Homo sapiens: one gene and its partners. The protein of the gene in region 3 purifies or fractionates together with the protein of the main gene of each other region. This does not show direct contact. Each region holds a gene or a part of one and is shown on either strand. Other genes may lie near its edges. The genes, in order: EPDR1, PNPLA6 and PCDHGC5.

What was found.
Region 1: the proteins of PCDHGC5 (region 3) and EPDR1 purify together in Homo sapiens (affinity purification with mass spectrometry; one large-scale study listed by BioGRID and IntAct). This does not show direct contact.
Region 2: the proteins of PCDHGC5 (region 3) and PNPLA6 purify together in Homo sapiens (affinity purification with mass spectrometry; one large-scale study listed by BioGRID and IntAct). This does not show direct contact.

Annotation. Positions count from the first base shown.
Region 1 is NC_000007.14:37,927,013-37,930,661, reverse strand, and holds part of EPDR1 (mammalian ependymin-related protein 1 isoform 1 precursor), read right to left. Parts: intron 1-3,649. UniProt on the Homo sapiens protein: Binds anionic lipids and gangliosides at acidic pH.
Region 2 is NC_000019.10:7,549,078-7,552,726, forward strand, and holds part of PNPLA6 (patatin-like phospholipase domain-containing protein 6), read left to right. Parts: intron 1-829; coding exon 830-1,035; intron 1,036-1,220; coding exon 1,221-1,352; intron 1,353-1,439; coding exon 1,440-1,563; intron 1,564-1,916; coding exon 1,917-2,030; intron 2,031-2,284; coding exon 2,285-2,360; intron 2,361-3,649. UniProt on the Homo sapiens protein: Phospholipase B that deacylates intracellular phosphatidylcholine (PtdCho), generating glycerophosphocholine (GroPtdCho). This deacylation occurs at both sn-2 and sn-1 positions of PtdCho.
Region 3 is NC_000005.10:141,487,444-141,491,192, forward strand, and holds the start of PCDHGC5 (protocadherin gamma-C5 isoform 1 precursor), read left to right. Parts: upstream 1-1,637; 5' UTR 1,638-1,797; coding exon 1,798-3,749. Other genes in the region: PCDHGC4 (protocadherin gamma-C4 isoform 1 precursor), read left to right, coding at 1-172. UniProt on the Homo sapiens protein: Potential calcium-dependent cell-adhesion protein. May be involved in the establishment and maintenance of specific neuronal connections in the brain.

The DNA of each region.
Region 1 (3,649 bases), on a different chromosome or scaffold from region 3:
CAGAAGGGTGAGATCTCTGGGGTCCAAGGGTAAGCCAGGCCGTGCCTGAAGCTGGGCTAGGATGAGAATTTCTATTCAAAAGGACAGGGTGTGTGACAAGGGACAGGTGGAGGGCTTGACTGTGAGAAGAAGAACTCCCACACCTACAGGAAACACAATCCATGCCAAGATACAGCACCTGATGTGGCATTTCCAATGGATATGAAGTCTGGGGCAGATTCTCTTCCCCCATCCTTCACTCCCAAGAGTGCCTGCTGGTACTCAGATACTCCTCATAAGTTATATGTTACCTATTGCTGACAATGCTGCGTCAGGCAGAGCTGTGCCCTTGGCCCTGCACCACCGGCTTCCCATCTGCCACTGTCTTCCCTGGTGGCTTCTGAGATGCTCTGGAGCAGCGTCTTCCCTGAGAGAGCTGGGGCTGTGACTCTGGTGCCTCTTCCAAGGTGAGCTTTTGGCTGTCACTCATCGGCAGGGCCCACATTCTAGAACTCTACCAGAAGATCTAACTTTAAGCCACAACAAAAGCAGCCTTCTGTGAGCGGGCAGGAGTCATCCAAGGCATGTATATCCTTTTCCTCCAGGAGAAGTTGCCTTCTTTAGGGGAGCCATCATCCCAAGAGTTTCTCCTTTCTTTGGGGGGACTGAGGGTAACTTAGGCACCCTGCTAAGGATCTGATTCCTCTTCAGATGGCCTCCCGACTCAAAAAGGCACTGCTTCTGAGAAACTGTGGGTGCTTTAGAAATAAATCTCAAATGCCCACATTGGGTGAAATTCCCCAAAATTGAAATTGAGGCACAAGAGAGACACTGAAGACAGTGTTTGATGAGAGGGCAGTGGGGGAGTGGCTCATGGGCGAAAGGAGTTTGGGGCATCCACTCTCTGGAGGTGGTGGTGTGCCCTCCACTTCAACCCTACTGGAAAACTTTTCAAAACACTGCAGTGTAATTCGATGTCAAAAATCATTCTTAACAGAAAAGAGGTATAACGTAACATATAAATGAAAAACCATGAAACCATTACATAAATCTATCATTTTATTGTCTAAGAAATTTAATTATAAGGAAAAAAGGAAAGAAAATACATATCTATTATTTAGGTATCCTTCTACAATGAATGTATATTATCAGTTATTCATTTCCCTCATTCACTGATTCAAAAAAAAATAAAAATTAGTCAGGCCCTGCTCTTAGCAGTTAGAAAATGGAGCTTGGGAATCGCCTTCTCCGACATCAGAACACAGCTCTTTTCATATGGGACAAGTATTCGTTTAGGTCCCACATAGTATGTTGAAAAGAATGTAAAGTGTTCTGAGGAGTTAGAGACACAGCAACAACCATACAAAACCCCTGGCCTTACGGAGCCTTATTGTGCATGAGGGAAGGTGGGGGAGATGAAGGAACAAACTTTAACGTTAAACACTCTGCCAGATAGTCATAAGTGCCTTGGATATATTAATATAAAGCAGTGAGGGGGCACTGAGAATGTTGAGCAGAGAAACAGTTCAATTTGGGAGTAAGTCATGCAGCTTCTTAGGAAAAAGTCTTTCTAGGCAGAGGGAATGACAGATTCAAGTGCCAATGGGGTCAGCGTGCTGAGGCCAGGTCCACAATGAGTGAGCTGGTGACAGAGATAAGGTAGGGAAAAGGCTGGGGAGCAGATCCTGAGCCAAGAAGTGGCATGACGTATTTTCAAGAGAACCCCTGGGGTTTCTATGTGGAGAACAGACTAAAGGGAGCAAGGTCCGAAGTGGGGACAACTGTTAGGAGGCTATCATAAACATCCAGCCGAGACATAATAAAAGTTTGGGCCAGAATAACAGTAGAGGTATGGTCAGATTCAGTATATATCAAAATTAGGGTATAGGTAGGAACATAAAGAGATGAGAGCCTGAGCCCTGGGAGAGTCCACTATTAGCAGTCCAGAGAAGAGCAGAAAGAGCAAAAAGGCTTGAGGAGAGGAAATAAGGTGGGAGAAGGAAAACCAGAAGACTAGCATGTTGAAAGCCAAGTGAAGACAGTGCATCAAGATTGGGGAATTAATCTACAATAAGATGAGGACTGATCAAAGATTGGTTGATTAGTAATGTAGAGCTTCTTGCTTTTGACCAGAGTATTTTCAATAGAATGGTGACAAAAGTGATTGGAGGGTGTTCAAGAGAGCATGGGAGTACAAAAATTGTAGTTAGCATGAGATTTGCTTTAAATAGAAGAGGAGAATGAGATTTCAGCTGGTAAGATCAAGAGAAGTTTTTTTTTTTTATTTAAAGATGGGTAAAATAAAAGAAAATGTTAAGGGGGAAAATAGAAATTTTTTACTGGAATTGGTGAAATCTAAGACTATCATATTTATTCCAGGAAAAACAAACCACTAATTGGTGGAATATTTTCAGATCTTTGGGCACTTTGCCCCTGACCACCATCCTCAAGGTCAGAATCAGGAAGAAACAGCTCAAGGTTATTGGAGAAAGTAAAGATGTTTTCAAAGCAGTATAGTGACCACCTCTGGCTTCCATTCGTAAATTTGTCTTACATTCCATCAGCCTCCTTACTCTCCTGGGCTTATCTTCTTTGGATCTTTTTTCCCCAGTGCCTGCTTCTCCCTCCCCATCTCAGCATTAATTGTCTGAAATCCAGGGTCTATAGACACACTGAATTAAGTCCCTTAAATCAAACTTTGTGTGCTTCCAAGAAAATCTGTTTCTTGAAGAAAAACTCAAATATTGCGAAACTCAAGTATTGCAAATCAGTATGGTTTATTCTTTGAGGATCAGGAGGCCACAAGCAGTCAAGACTTCCTCAGCTCACAAAAGAATATGCTATCTCCAGCCATCTGAGACCAAAATGATGGAGTAAAGGTCAAAGGAGAAGTCATGCTCTTAATATTCACAAAGTCGTGATTTCTTAAAATGAAAATCCAATCCATGCAAGACAAGATTCATGATCAAATAGATTTATTGAGCACTTTATATTAGTCTGCCTCCCCCAGTCACACAGAAACACCCTCTGAGGATTTGTAATGATGACATACTGAGAATCCAAAAGCAATACAAACATATGTTAAGAACATAATTTCATCTACTCCTTTCTCTTGAACAATTTAGACTAAAGCCACTAGGTAGGACCAAGGAAGATAGGCTTCTACATGGGCTGGCCTGGAGCGCAGAGCCCATGTGTGAAGGAGACAGCGTAATGATACATGACTGGTTACCTACTGCAATTGAATAGTAAGCCAGTTTTCTCACTGGCTGAGAAGGGAGTAGCAAAAATGAAAGGAAAAAAAAAACTAGAATGAACCATGTAGTGTTGGATTAGAATGAAGGCATCAGTTTAAACACCTGTATGGATTAGAACTGGAGGTTCAGAAATAAATATAGATGTAAATGTGTATATATGTATGAGTGTGTGTGGGGAGGGATGTGTGTATTCAAACTTAACACCCCTTGCTTTGTCCATTGAGAGGACCTGGTAGCAGTGCCACCTGATAGCACTGAGCATGACCAGAGCACAGGTTCTAACTTCCACATATTATTCTCCAGGAAAAGTAACCAGGGCTTCTTGAAAAATGGTTTATCCTAGGACTGGGGCAGGAAAAGTATAGATGATCTTGAAATATCTTGCTGTGCCGGAAAGCAAGGAAGTGCCCAAA
Region 2 (3,649 bases), on a different chromosome or scaffold from region 3:
CAGGCATGAGCCATCGCGCCCGGCTAAAAAATATTTTTATATTTATTTATATTTATATATAGATGGTGCTTATATCCAAAGTCTTTATTCTCTCCTTCATGTTTCTTTTTTTTCTTTTTTTTTTTTTGAGACGGAGTCTCGCTCTGTCGCCCACGCTGGAGTGCAGTGGCGCGATCTTGGCTCATTGCAAGCTCCGCCTCCCGGTTTCACGCCATTCTCCTGCCTCAGCCTCCCAAGTAGCTGGGACTACAGGCGCCCGCCACCACACCCGGCTAATTTTTTGTATTTTCAGTAGAGACGGGGTTTCACTGTATTAGCCAGGATGGTCTCGATCTCCTGACCTCTTGATCCGCCTGCCTCGGCCTCCCAAAGTTCTGGGATTACAGGCGTGAGCCACCGCGCCTGGCCTTCTTCTTCTTTTTTTTTTTAAAGACAGTGTCTCACTCTGTCGCCCAGGCTGGAGTGCAATGGCATGATCTCAGCTCACTGCAACCTCAGCCTTCCAGGTTCAGGCAATTCTCTTGCCTCAGCTTCCTGAGTAGCTGGAATTACAGACATGTGCCACGACGCCCAGCTAATTTTTTTATTTTAGTAGAGACAGGTTTCGCCACGTTGGCCAGGCTGGTGCCGAACTCCTGGCCTCAAGTGATCCCCCCTGCCTGGCCTCCCAAAGCGCTGGGATTACAGCCGTGAGCCACCGCGCCCTGCGCCTTCATATTTTTCTTAACCCTTCCTTTCTTCTTTAATTTTTTCCTGTGGGGGCATGTTGACCTGAGCTGGGGTCCACGCTGTCCGGGTTCTGTGTTCATCACATCCCCTGCCCGCACAGGACGTGAGCCTGCACTTCGTGCTCTGGGGCTGCCTGCACGTGTACCAGCGCATGATCGACAAGGCGGAGGACGTGTGCCTGTTCGTAGCGCAGCCCGGGGAACTGGTGGGGCAGCTGGCGGTGCTCACTGGCGAACCTCTCATCTTCACACTGCGAGCCCAACGCGACTGCACCTTCCTGCGGATCTCCAAGTCCGACTTCTATGAGTATGACAGCCCGAAGTTGGAGTGTGGGTGGCACTCGGAGGACCCCAACCCGTGGGAGTGGCCAGAACCCCATCCCTCAACCTCACTCCTGGAAGAGCAGAAGGGAGCCCCCAGATCTGGCCTCCCAGCGCCGGTGTAGGACGGTTTTGAGGCCTTCCTCTTTCATCCCAAGTCTGTTCCTGCAGGATCATGCGCGCACAGCCCAGTGTGGTGCTGAGTGCGGCGCACACGGTGGCAGCCAGGATGTCGCCCTTCGTGCGCCAGATGGACTTCGCCATCGACTGGACTGCAGTGGAGGCGGGACGCGCGCTGTACAGGTGCAGCTCCCACCGCGCTGCTCAGGCCCGGCCTAGGGGTGGGGACCTGGGGGTGGTCAGACCTTGCTGACCTCCACGCCCACTCAGGCAGGGCGACCGCTCCGACTGCACTTACATCGTGCTCAATGGGCGGCTGCGTAGCGTGATCCAGCGAGGCAGTGGCAAGAAGGAGCTGGTGGGCGAGTACGGCCGCGGCGACCTCATCGGCGTGGTGAGCGCGACCCCCACCCACTGACCTCTGGCCTTTTCCAGGCCAGTCCCTCGACAACTCACACACATCATCCCGGGTAATCCAGGGAGTGGTGAATGCAGCTCCCGACCTCTGAGGTCACCCAGTCCACTCCCCGCCCAGACCTCATTTCGTTGGAAAAAGGGGATTCCGCCTGTCGTGGATCCCTGTCCTCTCCCTCTCCCCAGAGCTCTAATGGGTAGCGAGCGAGGCTTGCTTCCCTACACCCCCATTGCAGGGGAGCCCTAGATGGGGCAGTACAGCCCCCTTTCCACCCATCTTCGGCCTCCTCATTCCCCACCCAAGCAGCCCCAATCATGCACGCGGCCCCCCAGGTGGAGGCACTGACCCGGCAGCCGCGAGCCACGACGGTGCACGCGGTGCGCGACACGGAGCTGGCCAAGCTTCCCGAGGGCACCTTGGGTCACATCAAACGCCGGTACCCGCAGGTGCGGCCTGTTGTGGGCGGGGCAGAGAGGCGGAGGCGGGACTCCGGGGGGGTGGGGGCCGGGCCTAGTGTGTGGGCGGGGCTTACAGAGGGGCGGGGTCGAGGGAGGGGCCGAAGCGAGAGAGTGAGGGCGGGGGCTCTCGGGGGTGGGACCCAGGTAACGGGCACCCAGGAGCCCCGGCATAGGAGGGAGAGGTGGGACCTGGACAGCCGCTTCCCAGGTCTCACTGAAATGCCGGCCTCCAACGCCCCCAGGTCGTGACCCGCCTTATCCACCTACTGAGCCAGAAAATTCTAGGGAATTTGCAGCAGCTGCAAGGACCCTTCCCAGGTGAGAGCCGGCCGGCCCAGAGCGTGCTGGGAGATGTAGTCCGGCGTCCAGAGCATGCTGGGAGGGAAGCCTTCTTTCCTGAGGGATGCTGGGAAATGGAGTTCCGCGAAGAAATCGTGCCCCTGAGGGTTTCAAACCCTAAGTAGGACCCAGGTGCAGAGCATTCTGGGGAATGGAGTTCGTGTTCCTGAGCATGCTGGGAAACGAAGTCCTCGACCCCTGGCGTGCTAGTTAATGGGCTCGAAAGTAAATCAGTGGTGCCGGGGAGGGAGTCTTAGGCGGTGGACTTGGCGTAGTCTGCCCGGGAGTCAGGGCTTGCTGGGGAAGTCCACGGCCTGGACGTTGAGAGAAAGGGAGTCCTAGATCAGAATATGATGGCAGGGCCGTCATGGTGGCTCATGCCTGTAATCTCAGCACTTTGGGAGGCTGAGGCAGGAGGATCGCTTGAGCCCAGGAGATTGAGTTTGAAACCAGCCTGGGCAACATAGTAGGACCCCCGTCTCTACAAAAATTTCAAACATTAGCTGGGCTTGGTGACACATGCCTGTAGTCTCAGCCACTCAGGAGGCTGAGGCGGGAGGATTGATTGCTTGAGCCCGGAGGTCGAGGCTGCAGTGAGCCGTGATCGTGCCACTGTACTCCAGCCGGGATGACAGAGCTAGAACCTGTTTCAGAAAAAATAAAACAGCAAACAAACAAAACTCCCCATACCATGATGGAAAATAGTCTGTGGATTGTTGTTTAGGACTCTGGGCACCTCGCCTTCTGAAGTTACAGCTTGCTGGGAGATGTAGCCCCCTGTTTCAGCCTGTGGCTTCAGTGAGCTAGAACAGAATGGGGCGTGCGGTGGGGTTGGAGGCCTGCTGAAATGAGGGCCTGAGTTTCTACATTGTGGTGGCCAGATTCTGGGCCAGCCCAGCAACCTAGATACCCCTTTTCCCTCCAGGGGTTCTACCCAATTGGCCCTGAGCCCTAGATCCCCCAAGGCGGGGGCAGGGCGGTAGTGGCAGAAAAGACATCATTAAGAAATTACAGAGGCCTGGGGCGGTGGGTCACGCCTGTAATCTCAGCACTTTGTGAGGCTGAGGCAGGTGAATCACTTGAGGTCAGGGGTTCGAGACCAGCCTGGCCAACGTGGTGAAACTCATCTCTACTAAAAGTACAAAAATTAGTCGGGTGTGGTGGTGGGTGCCTGTAATCCCAGCTACTTGGACGGCTGAGGCAGGAGAATCGCTTGAACCGGGGAGGCAGAGGTTGCAGTGAGCCGAGCCTACGCCATTGCACTCCAG
Region 3 (3,749 bases):
TGACCCTATCAAGTTTGTTGATGTGGGAGGCCACTCTCATGGCTGTACACCCTTGGCTTCTGCACCCACTCGGAGTGATAGCTTCATGATGGTGAAGTCACCCAGTGCACCTATGGCAGGGGAGCCTGTTCGCCCAAGCTGCCCACCCTCTGATCTTCTCTATGGGCTAGAGGTGAGACCTTTGCAGGCTCAACAAATGCTTGAGGGTTATTCTGATCCAGGCATATGGCTAGGCCATGTCCTAGAGAGTACTGGCCTCTCAGTAAGTGCCCATAGTGATGTCACCATTTTTGTAAGAGGTAACTATGTGGTAGACGCTGTGCTTTGTAACTGTTTCGTGAATTAACCAGAGTTGTCACAGTTTAGCATTGGGGGCGGGTCATGCCTATATCTGAGTAAGAAATGAAAGTAATTGGTGATCAAGAGCCAGGCTGTTGTGGAAGCATGATGATGGAATGTGGGAGCACAGGAGGCTACAGTGCACAGGGTACAGTGCACCAGGCAGTCACTTGGACAAAGGTGGCTGTTTTCTCTACTCTTCCTGAAAGAGGGGATCAGATTCTGAAGTACCTTAACTCTAGGTTACCATTTCCCAAGGGATTGAGGGGAAATAAAATCTTTGTCTCCCAGTATCTAGTACACTGTGAAGGGACCTCTCTATTTGAAACATAGAGACAGCAGAAAGAGGAGAGAACTAAAGGAATAGAGAGGCACGCATCAGAGTGGTGGCATAGATCTTTTGGTCTGGGTCTTAGGACTCATATCAAGTCCCTACTGGGGATTTGAACTAGATGCGGTAAATTGGAAGGTTGGGGCGGGTTGGTCATCACCTTTGGAAAAAACAGTAAGTGAAATCACTTATGTCAGAAAACTGGTTTACAGTTGGCTGATTCATAGAAACAGCCACCCTGTGCATCTTTAAGTTGAGTTCTCCTGAATTTGGTGAAACCATGAAACCTAGAAGCCAAGCCATCCATGCTTGGCCTCTGACCACCCTCCTGGGTGACCTGATTCAGCCCCAGAAATGTTCCCCTACCCAAAAACTGTAACACTCATTCCACATTTGGGGTCTGGGGTGTCAGAAAAGCTAAGTCCCATGTCAGCTGACATTGAGATTTCCGCAAAGCATTGCTGGAGAGTCAGGGCAAGACTTTACAAGGTTCTTACTAATCTTTTCTCTCACCTTAGCAGCATTCAGCAGGATGGGGGAGGGTGGGGGAATACATGGGCTTTGCCTCTCCCAGAAGGACAAGATTTTGCTGGTTCAAGCAAAGTGGTGGAAGCTTCTGAAGTCATGCAGGAAGTTGCTGGGACAGAACGCTGAGGAGTTTTGTATCACTTTGTCTTCCCTGTTGAGTACCATCTGAGCTGTCAAACTTTGCTGCCAAGGGGGCTGAATCAACCTGCAGCACGAAGTGAGTGGGGAGGTAGGAAGCTTCTGTGACACAGATTTGCAGCCTGTGTTCCCAAGGTTTCCAGGATTGAGGAAACTCCATAATTGGTTGAGAGCACACAGACTTTTTGGCCAATCAGACTCAGAGCTGAGGTGGGAGATCTGCTCTTCCAGCCCGCCTCTCCTCCTCCAGCTCCCCAGCTCCACTCAAATTCAGCTCCCCTCCCCCCTGCCCACCCCCGCCACTCGGTGACTAAGAACTGCTGCAAGCAGGCAAACCTCCGAGCAGTTTTTAAGAGGCTGGAAGGAGACATAAGAGACTTCAGCTGCTGCATTCCAAGCCCTGGGTCTACCTTGGAGACAGGACAGCACAGACTTACTCTCCACAAAGGGACTTCTGGGTCATGGGGCCCAAGACACTCCCACAGCTCGCTGGGAAATGGCAAGTGCTGTGCATGTTGTCCTTGTGCTGCTGGGGCTGGGTGTCTGGGCAGCTTCGTTACTCAGTGGTGGAGGAGTCTGAGCCGGGGACGCTGGTGGGGAATGTTGCTCAGGATCTGGGCTTAAAGATGACAGATCTGTTGAGCCGGCGGCTGCAATTGGGCTCTGAGGAGAATGGGCGCTATTTTTCCCTGAGCTTGATGAGTGGTGCCCTGGCAGTGAATCAAAAGATTGACCGAGAAAGCCTATGTGGAGCCAGCACCAGCTGCCTGCTGCCAGTGCAGGTGGTGACTGAACACCCCCTGGAGCTAATCCGTGTAGAGGTAGAGATCCTGGATCTCAATGACAACTCTCCTAGCTTTGCCACCCCTGAGCGAGAGATGCGCATCTCAGAATCAGCAGCATCTGGGGCACGATTCCCACTGGACAGTGCCCAGGATCCGGATGTGGGCACCAATACTGTGAGCTTTTACACTCTAAGCCCCAACAGCCACTTCTCTCTGAATGTGAAGACCCTAAAAGATGGGAAGCCATTCCCAGAGCTGGTGCTAGAGCAGCAGCTGGATCGTGAAGCCCAGGCAAGACATCAGCTGGTGCTTACTGCTGTGGATGGGGGGACCCCAGCCCGCTCAGGGACCACCCTTATCTCTGTCATCGTGCTGGACATCAATGATAATGCTCCAACCTTCCAATCCTCAGTTCTACGTGTGGGAATCCCAGAGAATGCACCCATTGGTACTCTGCTGCTCCGCCTCAATGCCACTGATCCAGACGAGGGCACCAACGGCCAACTAGACTATTCTTTTGGAGACCACACATCTGAGGCAGTGCGGAACCTCTTTGGCCTAGACCCTAGCAGTGGGGCAATCCATGTGTTGGGTCCCATAGACTTTGAGGAGTCACGTTTCTATGAAATTCATGCAAGAGCCCGTGACCAGGGACAGCCTGCCATGGAGGGCCACTGTGTGATTCAAGTGGATGTGGGGGATGTCAATGACAATGCCCCAGAGGTGCTATTGGCCTCTTTGGCCAACCCTGTCCTAGAGAGCACACCAGTGGGCACAGTAGTGGGGTTGTTTAATGTGCGAGACCGGGACTCAGGTAGAAATGGTGAAGTGAGCCTTGATATCTCTCCGGACCTGCCATTTCAGATTAAGCCTTCTGAGAACCACTACTCGCTGCTAACCAGCCAGCCTTTGGACCGGGAGGCCACATCCCACTATATCATCGAGCTGCTGGCCAGCGATGCTGGTTCACCTTCCCTACACAAACATCTCACCATCAGGCTCAACATTTCAGATGTCAATGACAATGCACCCCGCTTCAACCAGCAGCTTTACACTGCTTACATCCTAGAAAACCGGCCTCCGGGCTCCCTTCTTTGCACTGTGGCTGCCTCAGATCCAGACACTGGGGATAATGCCCGCCTCACCTACTCCATTGTAGGAAATCAGGTTCAGGGAGCCCCAGCCTCCTCCTTTGTGTATGTCAACCCAGAGGATGGACGGATCTTTGCCCAGCGTACCTTTGACTATGAATTGCTGCAGATGCTGCAGATTGTGGTGGGGGTTCGAGACTCCGGCTCTCCCCCATTGCATGCCAACACATCTCTGCATGTGTTTGTCCTAGACGAGAATGATAATGCCCCAGCTGTGCTGCACCCACGGCCAGACTGGGAACACTCAGCCCCCCAGCGTCTCCCTCGCTCTGCTCCTCCTGGCTCCTTGGTCACCAAGGTGACAGCCGTGGATGCTGATGCAGGCCACAATGCGTGGCTCTCCTACTCACTGTTGCCACAGTCCACAGCCCCAGGACTGTTCCTCGTGTCTACACACACTGGTGAGGTGCGCACAGCCCGGGCCTTACTGGAGGATGACTCTGACACCCAGCAGGTGGTGGTCCTGGTGAGGGACAA